Linked DNA regions of Homo sapiens: all the other regions are linked to region 2. The links come from fine-mapping of genetic effects on gene expression. A gene starts in region 2. Each other region holds a variant in brackets. All regions are shown on one strand. Distances are from middle to middle.

Region 1 (5,000 bases), 93 kb after region 2:
ATTATGCATATTCAAAGTGTAAAATTTGATGAGTTTTGATATCTGTATCCACCTGTGACATCATCACCCCAAATTATTGGATATAATGAACATCACCCCCAGGATTTTCTTATTTCTCTTTACAATAACTACCTCCCTCTTCCCCAAACCCCATCCACAGGCAAACAACTGATGAGCTTTCTCTCACTCTAGATTTGTTTACATTTTCTGAGTTTCAAACATTAGCGATTAATTGAAAAGTTCTAAAACGCTTTGCAGGCCAAAACAAACAAAAAAAGAAACAACGACAACAAAGTATAGCCCCTCATTGTCCACTCTCACCCCCAGCCCCTGGAAACTGCCATTCTTCTTTCTGTGTCTATGATTTTGACTACGCTAAGTACCTCCTATAAGTGGAATCACACAGTATTTGTCCTTTTGTAACTGGCTGGTTTCTCTTAGCATAAATAATGTCTTTGAGGTTTGTCCCTGTCACGGAATGTGTCAGAATTTCCTTCCTTTTTAAGGCTGACTAGTCCATGGTATGTGTGTATTGCATTTGGTTTATCCACGCAGATCTTCCAGGAGGGACACTAGGCTAGCTTTCCCCTTTTAGCTACTGTGAGTAATGCTGCTTTGAACACAGATATGCCAATAGCTGTTCAAGCCCCTTCTTTTCACTAGGTTGTGAACCCAGAGGAGGAATTGCTGATTATATAGCATTTGACATCTAGTTTTTCTATATTTAATTTTTTGAGAAGCCACCTTATTATCCCTCCATCTGTGAATGACACTTGCTTTTTAAATATAAGGAGTATAAGCATGTGATAACAAAATTCCCCCATGAGAAAAGGATATAAAATAGGAGACTTCTCCTTCTTTTCCAGTCTCTGTCTTTAAAGGAATCATTGCTAACAATTTCTTGTATATCCTTCCATGGGATATACAACCACTTTGCAGAGTTACTGAGAGTCAACTGCTTCGTCTGCTAAATGGGCACATCTCGCTCCAACCACCTCTTTTTATTTTTATTTATTTGTTTATTTATTTATTTAGAGACAGATTCTGGGTCTGTCGCCCAGGCTGGAGTTCAGTGGCATGATCTCAGCTCACTGCAACCTCCGCCTCCTGGGTTCAGGTGATTCTTCTGCCTCAGCCTCCCGAATAGCTGGGATTACAGGTGTGCACCACCATGCCTAGCTAATTTTTGTGTTTTTAGTAGAGATGGGGTTTCACCATGTTGGCCAGGCTGGTCTCGAACTCCCGACCTCAAGTGATCCGCCTGCCTTGGCCTCCCAAAATGCTGGGATTACAGGTGTGAGGCACTGCTCCCAGCCCTCCAACCACCTCTTAGCATTGTTGCCAGACACAAAGGAAAATGGAGACAAAAGTGCATATTTCTTCCAGAACTATCAGAGGCCAGCAGGTCTTCCTACAGAATTCAGCCTAAGCAATCTTTCAAATACAAATACAAATGATGGTCTTTGGAAAGACCAGTATTTTCAAAAGTGTCTTGAGAGTGAATGTCTGGCTCTCTGGAGGTAAGGGGTGTGTGTGTGTGTGTGTGTGTGTGTGTGTGAGAGAGAGAGAGAGAGAGAGAGAGAGAGAGAGAGATATCCTTCATTTCATAGATGTGGAGACTCAAAGCTTTCCCTGGCTTTCTGTTATTCTCTAGGATAACATGAGGCCCAGAAGACACCAAGATTCAGAATTCACAGCAGTGCCTCTGTACAGATCACTGTCCTCTACCCCCAGCTACCCCCACAACATGCCCAGTGGCCTGGCTGGGCTGGATCCTGCTCCCACCCACCACACCTTGTCTAATTTCTCTCCCGCATCCTCCGGGGGCCAGGTTCCCATTTTCATGCCATTCCAGTTTGCTGAAAAGCCCTGGGGTGTCTCTGCCCCCAGGCAGGCTGGGCTGGCCTCACAGAGGTTTTCCATCTCTTAGTCGGCCTCCCTGATTTAAAGCCGCCTGTCAGATGTTGGAGATTAAGTTAGAAATCAGCCATTTGCGCTGAGTTTTGGAGAAGCTGCTGCCAAATGGGAACTCCTGAGTCTTTTCTTCTATATATAGTCTTTAGGGTGAGCTAACTGAAGTTAGCAGGGTTTATTTTAGGAGGTGTCTCCTTGGAGCGGAGTGTGGTGGGTTGGGCTGCCTGCCCGGGGAGCATTTGAAAGATTGCTTAGGCTGACATCCTGCAGGAAGATCTGCTGGCCTCTGACAATTCTGGAAGAAATATGCACTTTTTTCCTGCCTTTTCCTTTGTTTCTGGCAGCAAAGCAAAGGAGTGGTTGAAGGGCTATGTGCCCATTTAGCAGACAAAGCTGTTGAATCTCAGTAACTTTGCAAAGTGGTTGTGATAAAGCGGAGGTAAGACAGGTCCTCTCATTCCTTGTTTTGTATCCCTTGTGGTAAAAGTTAAATTCCTTGAAATATTCTGTCTATGAAGAAATACTAAGAAAGTAGGGGATGGAGTGGGTTTTAATCTGAGCTTAGGAGAATACAGTATAAAGAGCTTGGACTTGAGAGTCATTCCTAGGTTCTAACCCCAGCTCAGCCTCTTACTGGTTCTGCAGCACTGGGCCAGTTACTTTTCTGCCTCAGTCTCAGTTTTCCTGGCTGTGAACTGGTCGTAATTTGCCTTACAGTGTTGTCGTGACGGTGAAAACATGAGTTACAAAGAGTTAAGGCCAGTGAAGTACCTGGCACCTAATACGTGCTTCATAAATGGCAGTTATTGCTTTATTTGAAGAAAAGGAAACTTTTAGCAACATATTCCTAGAAATTACCTCAATTAGAAGGAGACATCTTGCTAGAATACTAACTAGGATTTTAGGTTAAATTATGCAGTCATATATTAAAAGATCCACCTTTTGGGAAATATCCATTGACTGGTGACCTGGCAGAAGGAAACCTCAGGCTCATTTCTCTGCAAGGTCCTGGCCTCTTTGAGTAAGCCCAATAGACATAATCAAGATGACAGTGTATATTATTTAAAAGGTGATTATATTAAAGCATTTTTTGGTGAAAAAAAAAAGTCTTGGAACAAATAAATACCTATTTGGTATGGGAACTGCAGTCTCTTCC[T/A]CTTTCTCACACACACCCATGCATATTGTCCCTTCAACATTCGTGCCATTTGTTGTGTTTAATTATAGGGGAAGTGAAATCCTCTCCAAAGTTGCCTGCTAGTTAATTGCTGACGTTTCATTCTCGAACATTTATTGAGAATAAGCTCTGCCCCATGCCTAGTGGAGGAAACCCCCGTGACATTTGAGTACTGTAGACAGGTTTGACCTATTCCAATTCAACAAGAGAGAAAGAAGCAAGGGAGAAAAAGAGCAATGCAGATCATCTGGGTATCTTCTTTGTCCTCCAAAGCCTCAGTTCTTCCCTTTGTACAATGAGCACAGCTGGATTTAATGGGCTCCAGGTTCTTTGCTGCTCTTTGAGGCTGAAACTCAGGGGAGGTAAAGAAATTCTTTTGCTTGTTCTGAACCCCAGTGGGCTGATCCAGAGCTGCTTGTACACCCTCCCCTTTCTAGATGAGATGGTTCCAGCGTGAATGGGGATGCTCCAGTGCTTGAAACTCACAGGCATCACGTGGTTAAGCTAGAAATAGAAAATAAGTCATGTCTGGGTTTCGAGGACTCCCTGACTATTCTGGTTATGTTTGGAACAGAGCGTTTATGAGAGGCTGAACTGAATGGATGGGATCATAGCTTCCATTCCATGGAAGGCAGGGTCGTCCAGCTTTCCTGATGGGAATGTGTTTGTTGGGCAGGGGTGGGGTTGGGGTGATAAGCTTCTTGGGGAGTGAGCTAAATAAGCCATTCTCAAAGCCCTTCCCCTGAGAATAGAGCAGGCTGGCTGTCCCGCCAAACAAAGAGCCTGGATGTCTTGAACCACTGCAGTGATGGGAAGATTCTGCCATCCAGACAATGGGAACTCTATCGCCATGTCTAGCTGAGGACAGGGGGTTAGTGTCTGGCCTCATGAGGTCCCAACAGGTCTGTTTGATGGGCAGGTTAACAACATAGGCACTAGAACCAGGTCCTTCTTCCTGGCTGGGGGATCTTGGGTGAGTTATTAGTTAATCTGAGCCTTGACTATTCCATCTATAAAAACAAGACCCAGAATAGTACCTAATTTTGTGTGTGTGTGTGAGGCAGAGTCTCACTCTGTCACCTAGGCTGGAGTGCAGTGGTGCGATCTTGGCTCACTGCACCCTCCACCTTCCGGGTTCAAGCAATTCTCCTGCCTCAGCCTCCTGAGGAGCTGAGATTACAGGCATGTGCCACCATGCCCGGCTAATTTTTGTATTTTTAGAAGAAATGGTGTTTCACCATATTGGCCAGGCTGGTCTCGAACTTCTGACCTAAAGTGAGCTGCCTGCTTTGGCCTCCCACAGTGCTGGGATTACAGGTGTGAGCCACCACACCTGGCCTGGTTGGGTGCATTTCTTGTTCATTCGTCATTTGGTCCCTATTTTTTTTTTTTTTTTTTTTTTTTTTGAGACAGAGTTTTGCTCTTGTTGCTCAGGCTGGAATGCAATGGCACAATCTCGGCTCACTGCAACCTCCGCCTCCCGGATTCAAGCGATTCTCCTGCCTCAGCTTTCTAAGTAGCTGGGATTACAGGTGCAAGCCATGATGCCCAGCTAATATTTGTGTTTTTAGTGGAGACGGGGTTTCACCATCTTGGTCAGGCCGGTCTTGAACTCCTGACCTCAAGTGATCCTCCTGCCTTGGCCTCTCAAAGTGTTGGGATTATAGGCGTGAGCCACTGTGCCCAGCCAGGTCCCTGTTCTTTAACAGAAAAGACAAGTCACCAAATCTGTTTTAGGCCCTTCAGATGCAGCTGTGAGCAAAAGAGACATCACCCATCCTCTTGAGCACTGGCTTCTAGTTTGAGTGGCTGGTACCCTGAGGAAGGGTCTGGAAGGACACAACCTGCAAGCTTGGCTGGCTGTGGTTGGCCTACCTCTGTCCTCTTAGGTTGGGGTTTCTCAGCCCCATAC
Region 2 (5,420 bases):
AGACACTAAGAGAGCGTTCTGGCAACATGTGAAATCTTGGGGGCTGTCTCCTCCAACCCCTCATTTGGCACTAAAGAAATCTAAGTCCTGGGAGGGGAGGTGGCTTGGCCAAGGTCATATAACCTCGGGAGGCTGCGTGGAATAAATGATGGAATCTGTTCCCTGCACCTACTTCTTTCCCATCAGACCCTGATCTCTATAGGGCATCCAAGTTGTTACAGGGAGGCTGGCTTCACCCCAATGGCGGAGGTGAAATATGGGATCTTGGCCAAGTTGATCGGCATTTTCTAACTTCCTGGCCACACTGATTGGTCTCGGAGTGACCCAGAACTTAAGACTGGTCTAATCAGAAAAAAAATCTCCGAACCTTTGAGGAAAATCCTGGGAAATACTGACCCTCCTTTCCCTGGGCTAGAAATGAACACAGGATACAAAGTAGTCGCAGCAGCTGAGGCCAGGCATCGTGTGACATCAAGAGGGAATAAGGTAGACTCCATGGAAAGCAGAGAGGAGAGATGGAAAGAAAAGGAATCCCAGGTGATAATTGTGAGTTGCTAGATCAAACCTCACCTGAAGCCTTTCCTCTGCAATGTTCAGCTACATGATCCAGTAAAGTATATTTTTAAGACAGACCGGGCTGGGCACAGTGGCTGATGCCTGTAATCCCAGCACTTTGGGAGGCTGAGGCAGGCAGATCACCTGAGGTCAGGAGTTTGAGATCAGCCTGGCCAACATGGTGAAACCTCGTCTGTACTAAAAAAAAAATTAGCTGGGCGTGGTGGCACATGCCTGTAATCCCAGCTACTCGGGAGGCTGAGGCATGAGAATTACTTGAACCCAAGAGGCAGAGGTTGGAGTGAGCTGAGATCACACCACTGCACTCCAGGCTGGGTGATGGAGTGAGACTGTGTCAAAAAAAAAAAAAAAAAAAAGACTTAAAAGATAGACTTAAGTCTTATTACTGTTAGTAATAGATGTTATTGCTTGTAAACAAAATATCCCCAACTGATAAACAGATGACTGGTGGCCCTAGAAACTTGCCTCTGGTCTTTTACTCCTGGTTAGGGGTGCTGGGCCCAAAGGGAAGGCCTCTATGCCAGGCTACATGCCTGGCTAAGCTTTAGATACAACTAAGGTTGATTGGTTTGGAGTTTACAACCCCCACTAGCATACATTTTATACTTTTCTTGTTCAGGCAAGTGGACTGGCTAATTACATGGGTTCAGAAAGCATTTTTTCTTGGCGCTTACTCCCGTCCTGCCCTCATGAACCCTTAGCATTTTTGCACATCTCTACAGCAATGCTTATCTCACCATATATATATATATAATATTATATATATTTACATATAAATATATATATTATATATATGTTATATATTATATATTATATATATTATATGTACATATATATAAATATATTATATATAATATATTTATTATATACATTATATATAATATATATATATACAATATATATATATTTATATATACGTTTTTTAGATGGAGTCTTGCTCTGTAACCCAGGCTGGAGTGCAGTGGTGTGATCTCGGCTCACTGCAGCCTCTGCCTCCTGGGTTCAAGAGATTCTCCTGCCTCAGCCTCCTGAGTAGCTGGGATCAGGGGTGTGTGCCACCATGCCCGGCTAATTTTTGTATTTTTAGTAGAGACGGGGTTTCACCATGTTGGCAAGGCTGATCTCGAACTTCTGACCTCAGGTGATCCTCCTGTCTTGGCCTCCCAAAGTGCTGCGATTACAGGCATGAGCCACCGCGCCCAGGCCTATCTCACTATATTTTAATGATTAACATCCACATCAGGCTTCTCTAGACCTCAGGCTTGCTGAAGATGAGATTAAACCTCATTCACCTTTGGATGCGTGCACCTGGCCCAGTGTCTGACACAAGCTTTGTATTCACGGATGCTTGTGGAGTGGATGAAACAATCTCTTCCCACTCCCTGCCTCATTGTCTGATGAGCCTTCATTACACTCCACTTTCTTCTCTTTGTAAATTAGGATGAGGTGAAAAAGCACAGCAGACAAGATGCGAAGCATTCACGCCAAGTCCTCAATTCACAAACTGATTTGATCTGCTGTTGTATTCCCAGAGTGCTAGGTCCCGTATGGGACACCAACGCCATCCCATATGCTCACTGTTCTGCGCTGCTGTGTATAAAGCCCTGGGCAAGAGGACAAGGGAGGGAAAAACCAGAAAGACTGAGTCAGAGAAGGCTCGGGATGAAATTTGAGTCCATTGGGATCATTCTGCCTAAACGACAGAGGAGAAAGCTTGGGCTCAGGGAGGAGTCCTCCTCCTCCTGGCTCAAGGTCACCGGGACAGACCAGTCAGGATGGGAAAGAACTCCACTTTCAAGAGCAAGACCTGTTTCCCCAGGACCTGGGCCCTGTGCAGACAGGAAGGGGGACTTCAGGATGGATGGGGAAAAGGACACGCTGGGAGGCTGCGGGGCCAGCCTTTGGGGCTTGCATCCTGCGAAGGTTGAGTAACTCCACGGGTCTCCCTTTTGCCGCTATACCACTTGCCAACTGGGTTTGGAGTCTCTTGGCTTGTGAGTCCTCAGGGACCAGAGAAGTGACTCAGTGAACACTTAGTACATCGTTGGCACCGGGGATTGTGTGTGATTCAGGAGTCACTCACAGAGCTTGTGCTGATTAACTCCAGAAACTCACCCAAAGCCTCCTCCCCACCCCTTCAAGCCCAGGATGAAGGGATCAGACTGTGGCTCTGACACTCCTGAAATGTTTCTCACGTGTCCACCTGCCAACCGGTCTGGTACCGACAGAAGATCCCTGGACCGCGAACTCCGGGGCTAGGAGCTTCCTCCACGCACTGCCTCCTTCCAGCGGCCCACAGGGAAAACAGGACCTCGGGACCCCCTCTCTTCCTGACCTCCCCTGGATTCTGAGCGGGCCCACCCTCAACCAAAGGTCCCCTGTTTCGCGGCCCCTGCCTCTCTTTTTCCGCCTTGGGAATTGTCCCCCTCGCCCCCCATCCTACTCCCACTACGTCCTGAGGGGTGTCTGTCTTCTCTGATCGCCCCCACCCCCTTCCTTTCCCTCCTCCTTTTCCTCCCTCGGCTCCTCCCCCAGGCCCCGCCCTCTCCGCCTCGGCCCGCGTCCCCCCGGCGCCTTCCCCATCACCCTCCCCTCCAGCGGGGACAGGGGTGTGGGGAGGGGGGCGGCGGCGGCGGCCCGAGCGGGAGCCCGAGCGGCAGCCGGCGGCCGCGGGAGCTGCGGGGAGCGCGGGGGCGGCCCGGAGCGTGCCGGGGTCCCCGCGCCTCGCTCGCCGGCCGCGCTCCGAAGATGGTGGCGGCGCCGTGCGCCCGGAGGCTGGCCCGGCGCTCGCACTCGGCGCTGCTCGCGGCGCTCACGGTGCTGCTGCTGCAGACGCTGGTCGTGTGGAATTTCAGCAGCCTCGACTCCGGGGCCGGGGAGCGCCGCGGGGGCGCAGCGGTCGGCGGCGGGGAGCAGCCGCCCCCGGCCCCGGCCCCGCGCCGGGAGCGCCGGGACCTGCCCGCCGAGCCGGCTGCAGCCCGAGGAGGAGGAGGAGGCGGCGGCGGAGGAGGAGGAGGACGGGGGCCCCAGGCGCGGGCGCGGGGAGGCGGCCCCGGAGAACCGCGGGGACAGCAGCCGGCCAGCCGGGGGGCACTGCCCGCCCGGGCTCTGGTAAGATGCCCTTTCGGCTCGCGCCCCGCGGCGAGGGAGGGAGGAAGGCAGCCCGACCCCACGCCCCCCTAGCCCTTGAACTCGGTCATCAGACTGGGACTCTGCAAGCCTACCGACTCCACATCGCCTCTTGCCCCGGGAAGCCGGGTGGGGTCCCTGCCAAGGCTCAGGGGTCGTGGGCTGCCCCTTTCAGAGTCTGAGCACGGACCCCTTGGGGTCTGGGGGAAGTTTTCTCCAGCGGGGGCGCTTTGGGGGTTACCGGAGCCTGGCTGGGTTCCTGTTCCCCATCACTCTTGCTGGGGACCCCAGGTGACTTGCTCCGTGCGTGTAGGTCTTGGTGACTCGCTCCCTGCCTGAGTGAGTGGATCTCCCCGGATCCTCAGCCGCTGTTCCTGGGCGGTTGTCGCAGCAGCATCTCTCTGGTTTTTGCCGAGCTGGGTGCAGACAGTTGAGCCCTCTGTTCGTCCTGGCCTGCGATGAGGGCTGAGCTGGGCGTCCCAAGTCCCCGACCATGCCCCTGAATCAATACTCAGTCCGGGGTGTCTGGTCTTACTTTGGGTCTTCTGTTTCTCTTCTCTGGATGTTTGAGCCTTCCGTCTTCACCTTCTCTGTCTCTAACCTTGCCGTCTCCCATGCCCTCTGTGACTTTATCTCCTCCCCATCTCCAGTTTCAGGGCATGGCTCCTTCTCCTAGCTGGTTGTCTCTGTCTTTCTGTCTTGTTGCGGCCGGTTCAGGTCACCAGCTGTGTGTCCGACCACACCGTCAGGGCTTCCACTCCTATGGGATTACTTTGCCCTTCGTGGGTGTGAACAGTCAGGGCTCTGAAACTGTTTTTTCCGCAGATCTGGGGCCATCTGGGTGGCTGGGTGGGGAACTGACTTGTCTTCCTACCCTGTCCCTAACTTCTCCAGGGATACCTTTCCCACCTTCTCTGGGCTGCCTTGCCCAGCCTACTGAGCTAGGAGCAGGAGCACATGGGGCAGGAGGCCGGAGTCCCCATTTCAGAGCCAAGGTCTCAGTTCTCCAGGGGCGTGAGTTCTGCCTTAGGGCATAGCCAATGTGTTGTGTGTCTGTCTGTTTCTTCATCACACTACTTGTCTGCAAGGATTTGCCTAGCCGTTAAAGGATATTAGACACCAGGGGGATGGTTTCAGGATCCTGAAGACTGAATGCATATTTCTATCATTTGTCACTTTGGAAGTCCTCACTGAAGACTGCCTTAGTACACAGCGTGATGCTTTCTGAGCTGCTAAACTTCTTCGGAGTCTGTGCGACCCTTTCTGCCGGAGTGCAGCTCTTCATGCCTGAGAACTGAGCCAGTCCCAAGACGTGATGTGATGGCATTTCACGTTGCTGTGTGGGTAGCAGGGAGAAGTCTTTCCCTCATTTGCGGGGAGAATAGTGGCGTGAGCTGCCTGACGGAGAACCAGAACATTCCTAGTGTCCTGCGATCTCTTCTTTACAGAGAGGGGTACTCTGAAACGCTGCCTTTGAACTCTTGGAGTTGATAGTGATGGGTTCCCGCAGAAATGCAATTAGAAGTTCTTTGTGCATCCAGAGCCCAGGAGGTGGGGTGGGAGGGTTGTGGGTCGTGTCCTGCTGGTCCAGTGTAAGAACGTGTAGGGGAGACATGGTGGGGGAAGCCTGGGGCTTACTGTATCATTTGCATCTGGGGGTCAGAGTGGGTTCAGGAGGTACCTTTAGGATGCATGTAGCACCTGTTGAAACAAAT
Region 3 (5,000 bases), 310 kb after region 2:
ATTAAGTGGGTTAATAGATGCAAATACCACATAGGAGGCATTCAAGTGTTAGATGATGATGATGTTGCTATTGCTGGTATTTCAGTCTTTATCTTGCTGTGATCTAAGCTTTCATAATGATTTTAAAGGCATAGGAAAAGGTTACAATAGGCCCTGCCATTATCTTGTTTTCTATACATTGGGTTGATCACAGGAGGGTGAGATTTTTGCCTCTGTGGAGTGTGCACTTCTCCTGTGGTTACACAGCCCTCAATGGAGCCATGTGCCTGGGGTCACCAGCTCATCTTCATTTGCTCAGGACCATCCAGTTTTAAAACTAAAAGTCCTGTGTTGTGGGAACTCCCTCAGTCCTGGGCAAACCAGGACAGTTGACCTCTTCCATATGTGCCTCTGGTAGCCCAGTTGATTTAAGAAGTATACAGACACGTGGTCGTTAATGTTTTTAATGTGTAACAGGGAAAAAAATAACATACAGGTGGTACATGAGAGAGTATTATTCAGCCTTAAAAAGGAAAGAAATTCTAAGGTATGATACAATATGGATGAGCCTGGAGGACATGGTGCTAGTTAAATAAGTCAGCCAGCAAAACACAAATCCTGTACAATTCCACTTATGTCAGGTACCTAGAATAGTTAAAATAGCAGAGAGGAAGTAGAATGGGGGTTGCCAGGGGCTATAGAAGAGAGAAATAGAGAATTATTATTTAACAGGTAGAGAGTGTCAGTTTTGCAAGATGAAAAGAGTTCTGGAGATGGATATTGGTGATGGTTGCACAACAATGTGAATCCATCCAGTACCACTGAACTGTACACTGAAAAATGGTTAAGATGGTCTACAGACATATCACCCTGAACACACCCAACCTCGTCTGATCTCAGAAAAATGGTTAAGATGGCAAGACTCTGTCTCCAAAAAAAAAAAAAAATTTGTGACATCAAATATCACAAACATTGGTGCATAAGATAAAGCTAAAGTAGAATTTAAATTAAATAGACATATGAAATAACTTAAAGATTATGGGTACACTAGAAGCAGAAGTTGGGGAAACACTGTTGTAGTCTATTCTCAGCTTAGGTTGAAAGCACCTCAACCCTCAACTTCCTCAACTTGCCTGACTTCACAGTCCCTCATGCACCAGCATAGTCTTTCTTTTTTTTTTTTTTTTTTTTTTTTTTTTTTTGAGACAGAGTTTCGCTCTTGTTTTCCAGGTGGGAGTACAGTGGCGCGATCTCTCCTCACTGCAACCTCCACCTCCTGGGTTCAAGCGATTCTCCTGCCTCAGCCTGGGATCACAGGCGCATGCCACCACACCTGGCTAATTTTTGTATTTTTAGTAGAGACGGGGTTTCACCATGTTGGTCAGGCTGGTCTCTAACTCCTGACCTCAAATGATCCACCCGCCTTGGCCTCCCACAGTGCTGGGATTACAGGCATGCCTGGCCTCCCCATAGTCTTTCATGTGTGTTTCTGCCCCACAATGGGTCGTTCATTGCAGTCCAGGAGGACTTACTCCAGTGTCCCCTGGGCTCTGTGCACACCTGGCAGCATCAGAGGTTTGAAATCCTGAATCCTGACATTCACAAAATCCTGCGTATAACTTTGGCTTTAGTCCTGTCACCTCACCGTTGGGCTGTGAGCACCTCTGGCAGGGTCCTTGACAGTATCCTGCAGTCGGGAAGGGGTTCTGGGGCATGAGTGCCAGGTGGGCACCGGGAGCCCAGAGAGGTGCAGTTGGCTTTGTGTTGGGCTCCTTCCTAGTGGAAGCTGAGCAGGCTTCATCTCTTGTCACATGCCACCAGCAAACAGGCATTGTGTGCCTCTGTGTGCCCAGGGCACCTTTTCCATACAGCCTGGGCTCCTGGGTGCTATGGGAACCTGAGAACTCTGCCCTCTCTTCCTTCATATCTTCATGTCCAGAGCTGTTATATAGATAAGACACACACACAATGGTGCCATGGCCCTCTGGGAGCCAGTCCCTAAGTCTGACACCAGCTGGGAAGGGACCTTGGACAAATCCCCAGGAAGGGGCCTTGGACATCTCTTAAACTATGCTCTGCAGAACATTCCATGGGTCTTATGCACAGAAAGCCTTCCAAGTTCAAATCAGGTTGGGTCTTTACACTGTTTTCCACAGTTCAAGGTGTCTTAAGCTTCTGATGTTCAAGATGGTAATAATAATGCTATTATATAATAGCTGACATTTATCAGGGGATTACTATATGCCAAGTACTGTGGCACAGATATTAGGTGCATTGTTTTTATTTAATACTCTCAAGACCTAAGGCTTATTGAAATGAAAGTAATTCATTCATAGTCCGGGTTCTCCAGAAGAAACCATGAGGAGCAGATAAAGATGGAAAGCAGAGAATTAACTACTCATAGTCATACATGACTTACAGCAATGCTTCTGAAATTTTAAAGAGCACATGCATCATCTGGAATCTTGTTTGAAAACACATTTTTGCTCAATAGATATTG[G/T]GTGAGCTCTGTTGCTCAATAGGTATTGGGTGGGGCCTGAAGTATGGCATTTCTAATAGCAGTGGGCTGCAGACCAGGCTATGAAGAGGAAGACATTATTGCGCCTGTATTTTTTTTCTTCTGCACTTGAAATGGAATACATTCATTCATTCATTCACTCGTTCATTCACTATCATTTGTAGAGGCAGTCTCGTAGTAGAGAACACAAGCTGTGACATTTGTCCCCAGGTTCCAGTTCTGGTTCTGCACTTTACTAAATGGATGATTTATCTAAGTCTCGGTTGCCCGTCCGTAAAATGAGAGTGAAGTGAAATTCCTTTTTTTTTTTTTTGAGACAGAGTCTCACTCTTTCACCCAGGCTGGAGTGGAGTGGAGCGATCTGTGTTCACTGCAACCTCCACTTCCCAAGTTCAAGCAATTCTCCAGCCTCAGCCTCCTGAGTAGCTGGGACTACAGGTGTACATGCCCACACCTGGCTAATTTGTTTGTATTTTTAGTAGAGACAGGGTTTCATCATGTTGGCCGGGCTGGTCTCAAACTCCTGACCTCAAGTGACCCACCTGCCTCGGCCTCCCCAAGTGCTGGAATTACAGGCATGAGCTACCACACCCAGCCAAAATTTACATTTTTTAGCATCATTGTGACTATCAAATGCAATAAAATGTGGCAAAAGTCTTTCCCCATGGCCTAGGGCATGGTGCACATTTAGTAAATGGCTGGGACTTGGGAGATTATTGTATTACTCATTTTTTTATTCATTTCGAAAAAGATTCTCATATGGCTCCCAGTAAGTTTATTTTAACATTTATTTCTTACTTATTTCAGCAGAGACTTCCCAGTGACTCCCATGGTGGTAGCAACAGGCCCCAGTTATCCTCAGGAAGCAGAGGAACTGGCATAGACCAAGAGACATGATTTCTAATCATTTCAGCAAAAAGTAGGAGGAAATTGATGATGAGATAGATACAAGAGATGAACTATGGGAACCATTTGGCAAATGACTTCACCAGAAAAAGAGAGTGAGAAACGTGTGTGAGTGGAAGAGAGAGAGAGAGAGAGAGAGCGCGCGAGAAACTGGAACGGGGTAAAATGTCACCAGATCGCAAGCTGTTAATTATCTGGAGAGAACTAAATATTATGTAGGCAATTATCGACAGGCGTCTGAAAGCAACAATAGGAGAATTTGGTCCTCAGCCAAATTCCATCTCCCTTTGGAGAAGGACTGGGGGGATGGGCTTTAGCATTCAGAGCAAGCATTTCACACAGAGGGAGAGCGAGGGGCCCGAGACCCTAGCAAGGGGGGTAGGCAGGGGTCCCCCCGCCCCACCCTTCCAGACAATCCATCAGGATCCTTTGCCAAGCACACAGCGCTTGGCTTTGAAAGGCGGCTTTGCCCAAAAGCTCTGGGCCTGGAAACCTCAGCCCCCTCCTCATCCACCCTCCCTCCCCCAAGATGTCATCTTTTGAGACGATTTCATGTGGAAGCATCGCTAAGTAAATTCGCTAAATGCCTATTCATCCCCGTCAGATGGGGACTCGGTGAAGCGGTAAATGTGAAAATGGCCCCAGCTCACAGCCCTGAAAGGCGCTTTCTGGGATTGCCAAATGGAACTGCAGCCGCTGACCCTGGGAGACCTGAGGCTTCACGAGAAGGGGGCCCAGGAGCCCCGGCCCGGCCCCTTCAATCCTCCCACTAAGGGTGTCTGAGAGACCTTATTTATTATTCCAACTGCCGGGGACCCATTCAGAGGTTAACTTGTCTCGTATTCATCAGGACAACAATAATGAACTGTTGCGGAGAGTGGTGAGGGGGTTGGTAAATAAGAGCTGTTAAAACGCAGTTGGAATGGGCCTCTTTATGGTTTGGAGAGAAACATTGCTTAAATTTTTTTATAGGCCGATTTAGTTTCCACCTCTCCCAGCGACTTATTAAAGAGGCTCTGTCCCCACAAACTACAGGTAACAGTGTCGGAGGCACCAGTGGACTTTACCTTGGCATGCACGATGGGGTTTAACCACGCGGGAGATGCACCATTGTAGGGACACGTGGGGTTAGCCCTTTGCGAGCATCCCCTGGGTTCACCTCTGTGCCCATCAGCAAGGTTTAGCTTTCCGTGTGTGTGCTGTATTCAACTCCCTGCAGACACACGGGGTGTTTCTGGTGCCTGCCGCTGCTAGAATGGCTGGTTTTGAATTGGTGTTTATTTCAGTAATAGGATGGGACACGAGCAGCGCTCATTTTCACTGCTGCCTCTCTTAACTGCTTTGTGCCCCCTCCGCTGGAATTATGAGTTGGTCAACATGAGTCATCCAATGAGAGAACAGGGGCTTGGAGTGGCGAGACTGCAGAGGCGCAGGGAAATGAAGGAGGGGGTGAGCAGTAGGGGCAGCTCAGACCAAAGAGTTGGGAGGCAGAGCAGGACGACGTGCATTGATTGTGCCCCTACTGTGTGCCCTTTAAATCCACCCAGTTGTCCATTCAGTATATATGCATGATGGGCCTACTAGGTGCTGGGCATGT
Region 4 (5,000 bases), 100 kb after region 2:
TCCTACTTCGCATATGAGGAAACTGAGGCACCAAGATCTCAAGTAATTTGCTCAAGTTCAAACGGAAAATAATTGAGCCGGCATTTGTACACAGAGACTCTGATACAAGTTTCCATGTTCTTAGCCACTATTCTATGCTGAAGTCACACGGAAGAAGATAATGAATGGAAACGGATAATTGAATGCAAAATACCCACTTTCTCTTAAAAATGGGCCAGACCAGCTGTCCTTGGTCCTGAATTCGACAGGCCTTACCATTAATGGAACTTGTTCTTGAACATTAGCATTGGGAGAGTTGTAGTCCTCACACTGATGGAAGCTATCTAATGTATTCTGTCTGCCATTGACACTGTGCCCCTCTAACACCCTTTCCCCTAAACTGATTTTCTTTTACCATGTTGGAATGTGAGTAGTTTACTGTACCTGCTGAAAGCAAGGTCTTAATTAGCCTTAATTTTTGAAGTCTGCAGCTGTAAAATGTGTTGAAAAGATTGAAAAGATTAGTGCACTAGTAATAAGATAATTGTCCCTGAGAAATGCTGTTAGCATGTAAACACAGTTAGCATGTGAAATCAGAACAACTGTAATATTTCCCTCGTTTGGTGTTTAAAGATGCTCCTGCGTGAATAATTATAACTAAATGCAAAGTGCAGAGATGGGATGCTGCATGTTTTTCCTGTTATTCTTTCCTGCTTCTATCCCAGCTCAGAAGTAAAACTCTTAGTGGAATCTTGTCTGAAGCTAGCCTCCCCTCCCCCACAGCCATTTGAAATTAGTACCAAGAATGGGGCAACTTAGAACAGAGGGAATTCCAAAATTAGGGATACTCAGCAAACAAAATCTACAGATCCCATAGCAACTTTTTTTGGGGGGGTGTTGAATGAAAGAGACCACACATGCATACCTGTATGTGCATGTGGATGCTCACATATGTGTGTGTACACACATGCATATTCACACACATACACTCTCTCTTTCTTTCTCTCTGTCTCTTAATAAACAGAGCTGGAGAAAACTAGCCATGGCTATACACAGCAGAAGCAGATGTGATAAACCTCATTTTACCTTTTTAGACCTAGAAAGGTTGCAGTAAAATATGCTGCACCTGCCACCACATGAGGTCCTTCCTTCCTTCTGTGGAGTTTTTGCATCCTTTGATAAGTTGGAACATACTTCAATTTTATGAAATTAGTACGTATAGTACCTTCCTAACAGACCATAGCTCATCAGATATGCTACATATCCTATAAAGACTAACCTTTCTGCTTCCTCATCTCAGACATTAGCCAATCAGTAGGTTGAGCTTGTCTCCTTCTGCTGTGTCATTTATACCCCAAACTCTTCTTTATAGGGAGGACTTGCCTTGACTTACAGTCAGGAAAACATCCTACAGCTCAGAAGTTGGCTGAGTTCTCAGCATACATCTCTCAGATTCCACCTATAACATGAATTGGGTTTCCGTTGATTTTGGTTCAGCAAGAATTTACCAAGTGCTTTCTATGTGGCAGTCTTAGGACTTCATTAAGCATAAAAACAAAGAAGATAGTCCCTGGTCCTGGGGAAGTGGGACAAGTTGTCAAAAGTATGTAGCAGGGGCTGATGAGAAGACAGGACTCTCACCCCTATCCATGGGAGTCAACTTTGCTCTCTGCCTTGTATTCCTGGGTGTGCATTCATAGGTGCTTCTTGAGTTAAATTATTCTTGGACTTTGCAGCCACGTTACTTTACAACCTGTCTATGGTTCATATCCCGTCCTTCTCTCTAACCTCAGGTCCTCCAGCTGAAAGTGCTGGGCTTAGCTTAGGATCCACTAAACCAGAGATTACAAACACCAATGCCCACAGCAGCCACACTGGCAGCCGTAAGTGAAGGACATGTGTCTGGGGCGGGGACTGTGGCAAGCAGGAGGGCCTGTGACCCTTCTAAGGGAGATAGCTGCTTTCCAGTGCCAGAAAGGCAGTGCCTTAGGAAAATGCTGGATTTGTGTAGCTAGGTCTTCTGATTTTTCCAAAAAATGCCAGAACTTTGCAGTTTTATGGGAAACCTCCTGAATGTGAAGTATTGGCATCCTATGTAGGTTTTTGTTGTTCTTTTTAAAACATTGTGCAGGCTGAACAAACTATGCCTGAGCTGAATACTGCTTGTAGATTCCAGTTTCTGTTGGCCACCTCTGCAGTCAGCCCATGAAGATCGTGTTCTCAAAGTGCTGGCTAAACAGAGGCCACTGCTGAGTCACTAGGGTTGCTTCCCACCACTTCATGAACGTGTTCAGTGTGAGACCACACACTTTACCTTGCATCTTGTTTCTCCAGCTCTTTCTCATCCTGCCCTCCCCGCAGATGTCTCAATGAAGTCCCTGGGAAAGTAACACTTACTCTCCTGAATACAGCCTACAGTTCCACCAAGCGTGGCATGCATGTGAGCGAGGGTCCCCCAACCCCGCCCCACTGCAGAAGGCGTAGAAATGAAAGCGGATCGTTGTAAGCTTTGGATCCGCCAAATGGGACTTAGCACAGCGTCGTCTCCTGCGTGTTGATTATCAACTTGCTTGGGGGATCTCAGGCTCTTGCCTGACCTTGGCATGAGGTCTGGCAAATTTGGCTTTCTGGGTGTAGAATTGATCGTTTCAGAAACAAAGCCATTGAGACAGAGTTAAGGAGAGTCCTCTATTCACGGATGAAAGGAGCTCATTGTATAAAATTGGTGTGACCTGGACCCCCTTCCTCTGGCCCCCTCCTGTTGTTCCCTTCCCCCACAGCTGGGGCTTTGTAAGGGTCTCGCAGGATGTTCTATCCCAGGCCATACTTTCTTCCCATCTTCCTGTCTCTGAGGCTGCCCCGAACAGAAGGAGAGCTGGGCTTGGAGCCCCTTTGCA[C/T]GTTTTTGGCTCCTCGGGCCAACTCTGTTGTCGTGGGTGATGAGAGCACTTCCTTCCGAGAGAGCTAGGAGAAAAACAGCCAGGCTGTTCACAGGCAGCTGCCCAAGGCGGCTGTGCAGGAAGAGAAAACAGTGGGTGCTAAGAACCTCTTCCTGTTCTGCCTTCTGCACGGGCACCTCCCTTCTGGGTCACGGCCCTGAAAAGTCAAGACTGTTGAGCTAGAGGAAGATGGTCCTGTGTGTATTAACCTCAGTGCTCAACTTCCTGATGGATTATTTGAGTTTTTCTGTTTCTGCTGTGAAGTCACGGGATCCCGAATTTTTCTTCTTGAGGTTGGCGGGTGAGGGTTGGAGTCATGTTCATGGGGTAACATGGTACCTTCCTTTGTGGGGGAGGGGTAAGGTATGGTGGTGAACAGATAGGAAGGTCATAAACTTAGATGCTTTCAGGGCTCAGCCCAGGTGGGCAGGGTGGGGTTGTGGCAAACAGAAGGGGATGTGCCTGCCTTAAGTGGACCTGCCTACCCAGTGGGTCAGATCTTTCCACATTTCACGAAAAGCCACAAATCAGAATATCATGATTTCACCCTAAATTTTAAATGCTGGCACCTAATTTTAAAAAAAGTATTGTTCAAAAATTAGCCAGGCTTAGTAGCATGTGCCTGTAATCCCAGCTCCTCAGGAGTCTGAGGCAGGAGAATCGCTTGAACCCGGGAGGTGGAGGTTGCAGTGAGCCGAGATCACGCCACTGCACTCTAGCTTGCGTGACAAGCAAAACTCCATCTAAAAAAAAAAAAAAAAAAAGAAGTATTTTTGTGCACCATGCAGATCACACCATACCACATCCAAGCATTTTGGTTACCTTTTTTTCTTTTTTTTTTTAAACCTCTCTGAAGATATTAAGGTTAAATGGGCCTGGCTCTGTGGCTTTCAACCAAGTCTTTGAAACTCTCTGAGCCTCAGTTTCCTCCTATATAAATTAGGAACAGTACTACAGGGTATTCATAATCCAGGAACAAGGAAATACTTAATGTCATCAAGAGAAAAAGCAAACTGGGCACACTGACTCTTGCCTGCAATTCCAGCAATTCGGGAGGCCAAGGCAGTAGGATCACTTGAGACCAGGAGTTCAAGACCAGCCTGGGCAACATAGGAAGACCCCATCTCTACAAAAAATGAAATATTAGCCAGGCGTGGTGGCACAGGCCTGTAGTCCCAGCTACTTGGGAGGGTGAGGTGGAAGGATTGCTTGAGCCCAGAAGTTCAAGGCTGTGGTGAGCCATGATTACATCACTGCACTCCAATCTGGGCAGCAGAGCAAGACCCTGTCGTTTTTTTTTTTTAAAGTAAAAACCAAAAAAAAAAAAAAAATCTATCTATCCAGTCTTTATGGCCTTCTGGGAACAGCCACTTCATGAGGATAGAATGTGGGTTTATTGAAGTAATGCTCATAAATGGTGAATTATGGTATCTCATAAGGACTTAACCAATGATAGCGGTCTACTGGGCGCTGTCATCAAGGCTGTCATCTTCATTGTCACTATCGTTTCATTAAGAAATATTAGAGGAGGTTGAGGGGACAGGCTGCAGGCAGAGTCCCTCCCCTGCTGAAGCTTTCTGACTCCATCCTGACTCTAAATGTAGAAGGCCCATCCGTCCCCTGCAGGGCCACCTTCCAGCCAGGTGTTCTCATCGTCTCTCTTCTGTCCTAGGAAGGCAGCTCTACATCCCGAGCTGTAGCCTGGGACTGCAAAGCTCTCCACTCCCCACCTCCTGGGATCGTTTTTTCCGCCCCCCGTGGTTTGTGTCGGCAGTTCTGTGTGTGGCCTCTTGGAGTCATTCCAGACGCGAAGCACTGCTGAATCACAGTTTTCCTGTATCTTCGACAATAGATGTCCTGGTCAGAGGCTCTTGTGAAGGAGCAAAAGAGGAGGAAGTGAAGAAAAGCAGGGAGGGATGTGCATAGAAATTTATTTTGGCAAAATGGGATGAACTCCAGATTTGGTATCAAAAAACTGACATTCTACACTGAATTTTAATCCAAACTGTGTGTGGCCCTTAGGAAATAGGCCTTTCCTCCTGGATCTCCCATGCCTCACCAAACAGTGATGGGTTTGATTCAGGT
Region 5 (5,475 bases), 380 kb after region 2:
CAGGCAATGCAGGTAGGAAAGAATGTTCCAGAGAGGGCAAAGGCCGGCTAGAGATTATGTGACACTTCGCAGGAATTAAAAGTGATTTAGACACTGGAGGAAGAATAGTGACAGATGATGCCGGAAAGGCTTCCAGGGATCAGGTTTTGCAGGCCCTCAGGGGCTATAAAGGAAAGCCTTGACTACCTTGAGGACTATGTGGGATTTTCATCAGCATGAGAGTGACATGGACAGATTCACACTTTGAAACATTTATTGTGGTATCTTGGGAAGAACAGGCTGAAAGAGAGGCAAGATGAAACATGGGGAGACCGGAGACCAGGCTACTAAAACAGTCCAGGTAAGAGATTACAGTAATTTGGACTACAGTGAGGCTTCTATAAACATGATGTGCTTATTTATTGCTTGGAGATGTGACTGCACAGCTGACTGGAGTGTCTTCTGTTTCCATATATGCATATTTACTCTCAGTTGCTGACTGGCTCTGCACCTGTTATCTCAAGTAGGACTTAGAGGTGAAAGGTAAAGTGGTAAAAAAGAGGATCTGTATCAGGACACTGGCCAGCACCCCTACTATCCCCCAGAAACTGAGCCTGTGAAGCGATTAAAAGTCTGGATCTTAGAGGGAGCTCCAAGGAAAACTAAATCCAAAATGCCTCATCTGGGAGGTGAGGACAGTAAAGTCTCCTCCCATGCCTCCTCACTCTCAAAAGATGATATTTTCTCTATCCAGAATAGACAAATCTATATATAAAGTAGATTTGTGGTTGTCTAGGACTGGAGGTAGGGTATGGGGTATAGGAGGGTGATAACTAAAGATTGCTGAGTTTCTTTTTGGAGTGATGAAAATGTTATAAAATTGACTGTGGTGATAATTACACAACTCAATATACCAAAACCCACTGATTTGTATATTTTCAATGGATGAATTCTATGGTATATGAATTATATCTCAACAAAGCATTTTTAAAATATGTGTTTATCTCATATTTAATCAATATACAAGTATCAGATGGAAATGCTGCTTGACATTATATATTTACTTCATTATTGTCTACCAACCTTAGGTAGAATGTATGCTTAATGTGGATGGAACTTTGCCTGTTTTATTCACCACTGGTACCCCTGAGTCCAAAACAGAGCCTGGCATCTAATAGGTGCTCAAAAAAGATTCCTCGAATGAATGAGCATTTTGACCAAATCATCTGAAGCAAATCCTCTTTGGAAAAAGCATCCTTCCTCCTTTCAAAGATCTGTGGGGGTGACACTGTGTTCCATAAAAGTAGCTTGGAGCAAGCTGCCACAAGTAACCTATGATATCGACATCCATGCAGAAACTTAATTCCCAGCAGCTTTGGGATCCAAACATCACACTGGTGGGCTCCTCTTCCATTTGACACCATCCATTTTAAGCTAGCGGAGTCAGCACCAATTAGTACTCGTTAATCTAATTTTCATGAAACTGGATAAGCAGACACAGAAGTTCACAGAGTAGAACAAATTGCTCAAAACCAGAGCGAAATACCTCTTCTATCTTCTTAGCCTCGTAAGGTATAAGGAGCTCTTCCAACAGCAATTGGAAAGCAGGTAGCAGTTCATGGTCACCTTGTATACAGACTTACTGTCTTATCAGAGGCTTAAGCAATGGGAGGTCACATAATAACAGGCCCTGTTAGGCTGGTGGGGAGCCAGAACACAATAAATGAATTATGGCACCCCTTCCAGTTATATGTATTCTGATGCCTGTTCACAAACACGCGTTCTTTCATTTAGCCTTGAGATGTGAGTAGGAATGGATTCATCTATCCAATGGGTGAGGGCATGAAGGCAAAAGGTGTTGGATGACTCATTTATGAACCCAGAGTTAGCGCAAGAGTCCTTGTAGCAAACTTGCTAAGCCCATGAATTTTAAAATCAGGCCCAAGTTTGAATGCTAATTTTGCCACTATTCTCTGGCCTTAGACTGATAAGTGAATGTCTCCAAGCCCCAGTTTCCTCATCTGCAAATTTAGCAGCATCTACAAATTAACTAGATAATGCATATAATGCGTTTATCACAGGGCTGGCAAAAAAAAAAATATGTTCTTGATAAATGTTAGCTTAAAAAGAAAAACTATCCAGGCTCTTTCTGTCGTATGTTTTGTGAAAAACTTCAATGTACCATGTTTTCCTAATAAATAACCATCTTGGCTGGGCACGGTGGCTCACACCTGTAATCCCAACACTTTGGGAGGCTAAGGCAGGAGGATCACTTGAGGTCAGGTCAGGAATTTGAGACCAGCCTGGGCAACATACTAAGACCCTGTCTCTACAAAAAAAAAAAAAAAAAAAAATTAAAAATTAGCCAGGCACGGTGGTGCACGCTTGTACTCCCAGCAACTCGGGAGGCTGAGGTGGGAGGATCATTTGAGACCGGGCGTTTGAAGGTACAGAGAGATATGAACACACCACTGCACTCCAGCCTGGGCAACAGAGCCAGACCCTGTCTCAAATAAATGAATAAATAAATAACGATCGGCCGCAGTGGCTCACGCCTGTAATCCCAGCACTTTGGGAGGCCAACGCAGGCTAATCACCTGAGGTCAGGAGTTCGAGACCAGCCTGGCCAACATGGTGAAACCCCATCTCTACTAAAAATACAAAAATTAGCCGGGCATGGTGGTACATGCCGATAATCCTAGCTACTCCGGAGGCTGAGGCAGGAGAATTGCTTGAA[T/A]TCGGGAGGCAGAGGTTGCAGTGAGCCAAGATCGTGCCACTGCACTCCAGCCTGGGCAACAGAGTGAAACTCCATCTCATAAATAAATAAATAACAATCATGAGCCTTCACATTCCTTTCCCAGTCCCTCCTGAATGAACCTCAGCTTAGATGGTAAGGTCTGTATTAAATCTAGAATGCGTGGCATCTATTCATTCAGTGCAGCTTTGTTAAGCACCTACTATATGCCAGGTCGTGGGCTAGGTGCTCACTGTAGTTTTAGAAATAAAAGGCTCTATGCCTACATTCAAGGGGCTTGTAATATTGGATAATATAAGATGAAGGTACAGACACAAAAGGGAGTAAGAAAATGTCAAGTGATGTAATTTCCTGATGCTGACCTGCCCTCATACCTCCCCAGTTACAAATTCTCTAGTCTATTCCATCCTCAACCCTTCCCCCATGGCTCCAGAAAAGCTCACGTTAGCCTAATTTTGCAAACATAAGTCTTCGTAGTTGAGGAGTGCTGGGGTGTATTTATTCAATTTCCCAACTATATAATATTTACTCAGTGCCTACTATGTGTCAGGCACTTTATACTAAGTTCAAAATGGTAACATAACAAATATGGTCCCATTTCTTGAGGTGCTTAGAAACTGGATAGATGAGAGCTGATAATATAATAAGCTTGTAAATAAATATAAAATTGCAACTAGGAAGCAGTGAATGAGAGAATATAATGCTATAAGAATGTATAATCAGGGCACAGGAACTTGTCAGGGAGGTAAGAGAAGTCTTCATGAGAAATAGAGGCTGAATCTGAGCTTTGATACATGGTGAAGGCTTAAACAGCATGCAGGGAAGGGAAGAGCTTCTAGAGTGGAGATAGTCACATGAGCAAAGGCCCTAGTGTGGGAAGAGCCCTGTGCACATGAGGGGCAGAGGAGACACAGCAGCTGGACCACAGGGATGGGAGATAGTGGAAGATGGTGTTACAGTAGACAAGAACCAGACAGTGGTGGACTTGGAAGCCTTGTTAGGATTCTCAGCCACAAAACAATGGGCTACCAGCAAAGATTTGACTGGTGTTGGGGGGTGCTGGGAGGGGATAAGATAACCCTATTGGCGTCTTAAAGTGTAAATGAGCTAAGGAGGCTGGGGGGACAAAAGCAGATTGAGCACGAAGGGAGAGCGGTTGGTGTGGAAGTTGGAGAGAAGGGCAGATCATGCATTACCCTGCAGGCCAGGACTCGGAGCTGGCACTGAAGTCTGTGTTTAGTGAAAAGACTGAACTCTACTGTGCAGAGGACAGGTGGAAGTGAGCAACCCTCCATAGGAATGAGGTGAACAGTTATTCAGCTACCGTGATTGACCAAATGGGACTTGATTGACCAGGATGGGAGAGGAGGAAAGAAGAGATACAGTGGGAATGGGGGGAAATGGTAAAATTCAAGAGCTGCTTAAGACACTGCAGGATTTCCAGACAACTTGCTTGCACCATAGATGTCTCCAGGAATAGATATATGCAGGGCAGTGAGAAACCGGGCAAGTTAAGTTACCTTCCTAGTAGTCAGGAGCTGTCCTTGGAAGAGATTGACCTGGAAAGGTGCCCTTAGGCAGAGATGGCTGCTCTGGCCTCGACATGATACCCTGTAAGGCATGGTTCTTTTTCCAAGGAATCAAGTCACGTGGCTGCTCTCAACAGAATTCTTTAGAGAGAAAGTCTTGCTGTTTGTTATTCCATTGAGGAATCTTGGGCTGAGCTTTGTAGTTGTGGAGTCATCAATAAAATCAGGCAAGAATTCCAAAGGCACCAAGCATGAGCCTGCATTCCTTCAGGTTAGTGAAGATTTCCCTGTTGTAACCACTTCTTCGGTAAGCCTTGGAGATGTTTTTTGAATGAGCCACAATTCTCAAAGGCAATGCAAAGAGTTCCTGTGGGGTAAGATTCTGTTTTCAATTTCAAATAGTCCCCAAGTCCCTTCTGCTTTTCAGCACAAGAAAATATGCCTCTAAGAAACAAAATGTTGGAAAATGCTATTATTTCTACTGAAATTAAAGTCTTAGATTCATTTCCTTTCTAGAGAAATGCAGTAGATTAATTTTCCTTCCTGAGAAAGGTGTTCCTCTAAATGTGGGATTCTCAACTGAAGACAATTCCTCCCCCGCCGCCACCCCACTACCCATGGGACACTTGGCAATGTTTGGAGACATATTTGGTTGTCACGGCTTGGGAGTACTATGGGAATCTAGTGAACAGAAGCTAGGGATGCTGTCAACATCCTATAATTCACAGGACAACCCCTCCTACACACACAAAGAATCATATGACCAGGTATGATAGTAGTGCTGAAGCTAAGAAATTTTGCTCTAAACCTCATCTACATCTGCCTTTATTATGGCACTTGGTATGTTGAATATAGAAATAATATTATTCATATCCTTCAGGTAATGTCAGATGAAAGAATGAATGGGTGGATGGATGAATGGACAGGTGGATGAGTAAGTAATTCAGAATTAGCCAGATGAATAAATAAGTAGATGAATAACGACATTAATTAGTGAATAAATTAAATAAAAGCTAACATGTACTTAGCATTTACAACCTTTGTGCACCATGTTAAGGCCTTCACTTGGGATTGTGTTTCAAGTCTTGCTCAGTGGTCACATTTTCAGTGAGATCTTCCATGATGCTGTCATTAATACCATCAGCTTTTCTATCTCCCTCCATAGTGTTATCCTTGCATATATGAGCAGGGAATTTTTGCCTGTTACATTTA
Region 6 (5,475 bases), 370 kb after region 2:
ATAGTTTCCCACCCACCGAGTGACATTCAGGCAGAAATTGAGCTCAGGAGACAGCCAGCCTTCCCACATCCCACTTCACTTCCCGGTCCACACGTAAAGCAGTGTGTCTCCAAGGAGGCAGTGAGCAATTCCCAAGGTCCCCGTGTTGTGAGAAGCGCGCTGCTTTCTCCCTTTGCAGGGGAAAAAAAAGGCTTTCCTGGTGAGATCATGAGTCCTTCCGGCTTCATTTCTCATTGTGGGTTTAACTTCTAAAACGCAAATGGAGTTTAGAGAGGATGAGCAGAACCACAGGACCTGCCCCCATCTCTCACTCACTGCAATTGCTTCTACTCTGGGCACAAGTAGGGTGTCTGAAGACCATGTTTCCCTCTGGTTCTCTAGTTTGCAGATAACACAGAAGACACTGGCTAGAACCTTAAGCTTTCTGCCAAAAAGATGCAGAGAGCAGGGCAGTAGCTACTGGCAGTGGGGTGTGAATAAAGAGTCCTTTCACAACCAAGTTCACTGAGGATTTGGAGCACCAGCTTCCCAGCAGTATCGAGGGGTGGAGAGGTGTACATTCAGGTGGAGGGGTACATCTAGGGGTGGAGAGGTGTACATTCTAGAAACAGCTGTTAACACACTCCACTTTAAAGACAGCAAGCTAGACCTGCAGGATCAAAGCCACACACTGTGGTAGGGGTTACAAATGTTTATGGGGCCCAGAATACTAGCATAGATGCGTGAAATGGTTGGTGTGAGGCAAAAGGGCATGGTGGGGGCAAGGATGGGGACTGTGGTCTTACTGGCATGCACGTGACCTACCCAGAATGAGCAGCTGCTACTCAGCCCCAACCTGTCATTGTTTGTAAAAATGTAAGCACAGTGTAGTGGAATCTTCCAATTTGGAAGGGAAGCCGGAAATCCAGATTTAATGGAAAAAATCTGATTTTTCAACGTCGGGTTGTTTGTTTGTTTGTTTTTGTTTTTTTTAACAGATAGTGGGCAAAGAAAAATTCCACTGTTCCACGTGTACACTGCCAGCAACCTCTGCTCTCTGGAGAGGTGGTTTAAAGTGAGATTATGCATTGCCCTGGTAGAAGAGGAAAAAAGCCAGCATCAGGTCAGGGCAAAAATAACAGCCCATGTTGAACTCGGAATGGGGACCTCTTGCTAAGTCATTCCACTCCTCAAGAGACCATTCCACAGAGGGGGGATGGATCATTCAGCTCTCCTGGTCCCAAGATTGTGCTGAAGGGAAGAAGGAATAGAATCTGGAGATCTGGACTGCTGCCCCTTAGATATGCAGAGGTCCACATCTGCCTGGGGCTACAGCTTGTGGGACTCCATCAAACCAGGCCGAAATGGCAAAGACAGTCTAGGAGGAGGAGGAGGTAGGGTGTGAAACAGCCAGGCTCTCTCCAAATCCCAAGTGTTGACACAGCCATCTTGTCCCATCCCTGGAAGCCTCTTTGGAAACCACATAGAGCTGTGCTGGCTCACGGGATGTCCTGTTTGCTTCTGCCTCAGTTACCTTACTTTGCCCATGGGTCTACCACAGGCGCTACCTCATTGTGTCTGCTGAGAAGTTTACCTGGGAGGGGGGAACAAAGTTGTCCAAATCTGCTTGAGCTGAATGTATGATCTATGCAAATTCTCTCTCTCCTCTCTCTCTTCCTCTCTGGCTCTCTTAGAAGTTTTTTTGTTTTGTTTTGTTTTGTTTTGTGTTTACCTTGCAAACAAGATACTGTATAGGACCCTCTTAAGATGGAGGAGGGCTTTCTTGCGCCACCTGTGTCTACCCCTCACGTTGTCTTTGGCTCTGGTCTTACCAGGCGTATGCAGGGAGAAAGTGACCTCTCTTCCCTCTCCACTTGGCTGGGAATATTCCAACTGCCTCTGCCTACAGATACCACCAGAAAGCGGGTTCTGCACCTTGTCATCCCCCTCCCTAACGTCATCTACTCCATCCCTCATGTTCCTCCAACTTGCTTCTCCCATCCCTCCTTCAAAAACAAAACAAAACAAAACAAAAGCCTTAGGTTTCTCCTTTTTGAAATGTGGCCTTAACATTATTTTTGGGAAGCTGACCATCCATCCTTTCCCTCCCATCTCCACCAACATCAGAGAAGACAGCATCGTGAAGCTTCTGTGGCAGCCTCCTAAGGAAGGGGCTGCCAATCTGTAGTTGGCAGATGCTATAGGAATTGCTTACAAATGTCGTCTTTAAGAAAAATGTTCTTATATTTTTCCTATGGGCAAAATGAAGGCTTGGGTGCTCATCTAAAGCTCAGCCAACTCCTGAAGCACTCTCTCAGAGCATACTGCTGCTGTAATGGGCTGGCTTAATTATCGGCAGAGTGCTTGAAAAGGCTTTGCAGACCTCCCCTGCCCCCAAGACTGGGTGACTTTATATGTACTTCATTCAAGGGTAAATCAGGAGACGTTCTCCATTTATCTCTTCGTCCTTCCTGCCTGGAAAGTGATAGCACTAAATATTCCCAGCAGATGGGTAGTGTTCTCAAAGGAATCACCCTTTCCCTACCTTCAGACTCTATTCTTTACCCTTCCATTGCTCCAGTGCTGATGGAGGCCAAAGACAACCCCAGGGTTTTCATAGGAAATTCACTGGAATTGTGCGCAATTGTCTTTGTAGTCCTTTTGCCTTTTTTTTTTTTAAATATTATGTTGTCAATAGCATTTGTTTGGGTATTTGTTTTAGAGGCCTCACTCTAAGTTATTACCGTCCCCTTCATTGTTTTCAAAGACATGTGGTGATATAGTTTTTAAAAATAACTATTTTGTTATAGATCATAATATGCATAAAACTGTACAGAAATATTTTGTAATGTGTTGATTTTAAAAAAAATCTGTAAATAAAGTTTTAAAAAAAGAATTCAAATGGCACACGCTGAAATATGTAGATATTTTGCTATTTATTTAAAGGAGTATTTTAAGAGATATTGAACTATCTGAAATTGACCAGTAATCAAAGTTCCAATCATCTGAATGCTTTTCCTTGAGGTAGAATGTGAGTCTCAGAAATGACTGCATTAC[C/G]TGCCCTTTTTTGCACCTTTTCTGTCTTTTTATTTTGCAGAACAACAACAACAACAAAATTGTGCCTTAGCTGTATTTTTTTGTCTAGGGGAGTTTGTTTCTGTCTGACAAAGCAACATTTTTTGCAGAAAACAGTGGATGTATTAAATACTGTATCATACCAAAAACACTGCAGGTGTATATAGATGCTTTCTGTCATACTGTGTTTTCAGATGCAGAATTTTAAAATTAAAAAAACACTGCCTTTATGGAACAGTGACTATATGTGGCTTCTTTTCAGCAACATTGTGCATCTTTACACAATCTCATATTCTCTTCTGTCATCTGCATGGTGAAGATAGGATGACTATATAATTTATCATCCAAACTGGGATACTTTTGAGAGTTAAAGGAAGCACCACGTGGATGGGATGCTGAGACTGCAGGCATAAATGGCCTATCCTGGGAAAACCTGGGTGTGTGGACACATTTCCCTCATAAAAACTGCTGTCATCTTCTAACTGGATTATAGCAACAACCTCCTATAAGTACCTCCTGGTTGAGGCAGAAGTATATGATTTTTAAACCCGTACTGAGTAGAGAATAACAAGAAGGGACTGCCATGGAAAGTTGCAGTTTCCTATACCCAACTGGTTGGTTGGTTGGCAAACGTGTTTTCCTTTCCTCTTTACCACAGAGACTACATTTCCCAGACTGCCTTGCTCTTAGCTGTGACCATGTGACCAGGCCAATGGAACAGCTAGACTGCATCTTCCAGACTGCCTTGCTCTTAGCCATGGCCATGTGACTGACTCAGGCCAATGGAATGTAGGTAGAATAGGTACATGGCACCTCTAGCCCTGGTCCCTAAAACCTCCCACTGGAGTCTCTCCTCTCTCAATCTTTCCCTATTTGCCAGCTCAGATGTTTTGAATCACCTTGATTTTGTACATTCATCCACTTGGCCTATTCAGGTGGTCTTTTTGGAAACTTTGCACAGCCTCTACCTTAAAGGAAGGCAGAGCCACAGTTTGGAAGGTAACTGAGCCCCTGCATAGCCACATAAAAGAATGCTTGACCAGAGTCACCCCTATTGACTATGACATGAAAAGAAATAAATATGTATTTTGTTATGCCCCTGAGACTTTCAATTACAGCAGGCTAGCCTTACCTTAATTAATCCAATCAGAAATGGAAATTCAAATGTTTCTTTGGGAAAATCCACATTTTGGTTCCTTCACTCAGTCGGTAAAGTAGAGAGCCAGACAGGTGAAGGGATTTGCCTGAAGCTACCCATGGTCATCAGGGTCAAGTCTAGAACCAAAGTTTCCCATCTTCCAATGAGACTTTCATAAGTCACTGGGAAGACCAGTTCCTCCACCCCTGAGGTTAGCTCACTATTATGTATATATGTGGTTTCTGAGGGCTATGCCCAGGGGTTGGGAGCCTAGATGCCTGGGTTGTAAAGATGCTTCTAATTCACCCTTCAAAATCCTTAAAGGAAGACAGGCACTGAGACACAGATAGGATTTTAGCAGCTAGAACAAAATAGGCTAGATATCTCCCCATTAGACACACAGAGGGGCAAATATATGGAGAGCTGTGTCAGCTTCAGCCTCCTTGAGCTTGGCTCAGGAGAGATGGTGACTGACTCCATATTTAGACAGATGGATGGACCCAAGATTCATTTGTCAAAACCTCTTTCCAGCCTGATCTTACAGCCAACTTCCCTTTCCTCTGCCCGGAGATAATTCCTCAAAAAATGAGTTCAGTTGCAAGGGAAGAATAAATTTCTAAAATCTGCGTAGGAGTAAGGATCACAGTTATCTTATTCACTGTGGTACCTCCAGTATTTAGCACAGTGAGTCCAGCGTATGGGCACTCAGTGAATATTCAGTGAACGGACAAGTGAATGAGACCATATATCTTAATTAATTAACAATATGGGCATGGGGCCATTTGTCCAAGATTCTGTCTTTAAAACCATCATTTGATGGATAGTATTTGTCAAAATATGGGTCATTGTAAAGTAAGCTGTGATTTTTTACCTTCAATAATGAGGTTTCTGGGCCTACTGAAGGGTCAGTTGGAATTTCTTTCCTGCTTATTTACTGGGTTTAAGTTCATTAAATTCGTGATTTTAAGAGTTTTTTTTTTCTTCTTTAAGGGGAATGCTTTTTCAAGCAGTGTACCTTAAACCTCCACATATATATATATTTAAAAAAAAAAAAAGACTTAAAAATGGGTGATTAGGAGGGGTGCCCTGGGTGAAGTGAGAGTAGAAAGCTTTGTCTCAGCAAGTGCACCCACCCCCACCAGCCCGCCTCTTTCATGGCTCCATGGGATACGTAGATGACCATGCTTTGAAGTCACACCACACCGATGTTGAAAACATCTAGGCTTTTTGTACGGTTGGCTTTGAGGCCTTGCTGCCAAGGTGCTGAAAGTTGAGTTCTAGGC

Which allele goes with the higher level. Alleles are on the strand shown, and positions count from the first base shown. SD is a standard deviation of normalised expression in the study named. Not every link is listed here.
With allele G in place of T in region 3, the expression in monocytes after R848 of the gene that starts at base 3,161 in region 2 is lower (moderate effect, 0.64 SD a copy in Quach 2016).
For the expression in CD4 T cells of the gene that starts at base 3,161 in region 2, allele T in region 5 goes with a higher level than allele A (large effect, 1.2 SD a copy in CEDAR).
For the expression in rectum of the gene that starts at base 3,161 in region 2, C is the high allele of the variant in region 6 and G is the other (large effect, 1.1 SD a copy in CEDAR).

Evidence for each region.
Region 1: its variant is fine-mapped to the expression of XYLT1 in whole blood (TOPMed, PIP 0.97).
Region 3: its variant is fine-mapped to the expression of XYLT1 in monocytes after R848 (Quach 2016, PIP 0.95). The same link has a PIP of 0.9 or more in monocytes after LPS and monocytes after Pam3CSK4.
Region 4: its variant is fine-mapped to the expression of XYLT1 in whole blood (TOPMed, PIP 0.97).
Region 5: its variant is fine-mapped to the expression of XYLT1 in CD4 T cells (CEDAR, PIP 0.95).
Region 6: its variant is fine-mapped to the expression of XYLT1 in rectum (CEDAR, PIP 0.95). The same link has a PIP of 0.9 or more in B cells, CD8 T cells, monocytes and transverse colon.

Annotation. Positions count from the first base shown.
Region 1 is chr16:17,376,322-17,381,321 of GRCh38, reverse strand. The region is part of intron 1 of XYLT1 (xylosyltransferase 1); the gene reads left to right. Among named protein-coding and RNA genes, the nearest start is that of XYLT1, 92 kb to the left of the region's middle. The variant T/A (reference allele first, on the strand shown) is at 3,071.
Region 2 is chr16:17,468,701-17,474,120 of GRCh38, reverse strand. XYLT1 (xylosyltransferase 1) reads left to right here and starts at 3,161. Exons shown (of 12, transcript NM_022166.4): 1 at 3,161-3,687. The coding sequence starts at 3,325. It overlaps LOC107987234 (a long non-coding RNA gene), which reads left to right and starts at 3,694. Exons shown (of 2, transcript XR_001752091.2): 1 at 3,694-5,420. It overlaps LOC105371106 (a long non-coding RNA gene), which reads left to right. Exons shown (of 3, transcript XR_933144.3): 3 at 2,017-3,114. RefSeq lists enhancers at 2,666-3,167, 3,942-3,991, 4,112-4,381.
Region 3 is chr16:17,160,220-17,165,219 of GRCh38, reverse strand. All of the region lies in intron 5 of XYLT1 (xylosyltransferase 1), which reads left to right. Among named protein-coding and RNA genes, the nearest start is that of XYLT1, 310 kb to the left of the region's middle. The variant G/T (reference allele first, on the strand shown) is at 2,480.
Region 4 is chr16:17,367,810-17,372,809 of GRCh38, reverse strand. The region is part of intron 1 of XYLT1 (xylosyltransferase 1); the gene reads left to right. Among named protein-coding and RNA genes, the nearest start is that of XYLT1, 100 kb to the left of the region's middle. RefSeq lists an enhancer at 3,135-3,224. The variant C/T (reference allele first, on the strand shown) is at 2,877.
Region 5 is chr16:17,084,355-17,089,829 of GRCh38, reverse strand. No RefSeq gene overlaps it. Among named protein-coding and RNA genes, the nearest start is that of XYLT1, 380 kb to the left of the region's middle. RefSeq lists an enhancer at 5,155-5,475. The variant T/A (reference allele first, on the strand shown) is at 2,717.
Region 6 is chr16:17,100,138-17,105,612 of GRCh38, reverse strand. XYLT1 (xylosyltransferase 1) reads left to right here. Exons shown (of 12, transcript NM_022166.4): 12 at 1-3,844. Among named protein-coding and RNA genes, the nearest start is that of XYLT1, 370 kb to the left of the region's middle. The variant C/G (reference allele first, on the strand shown) is at 3,037.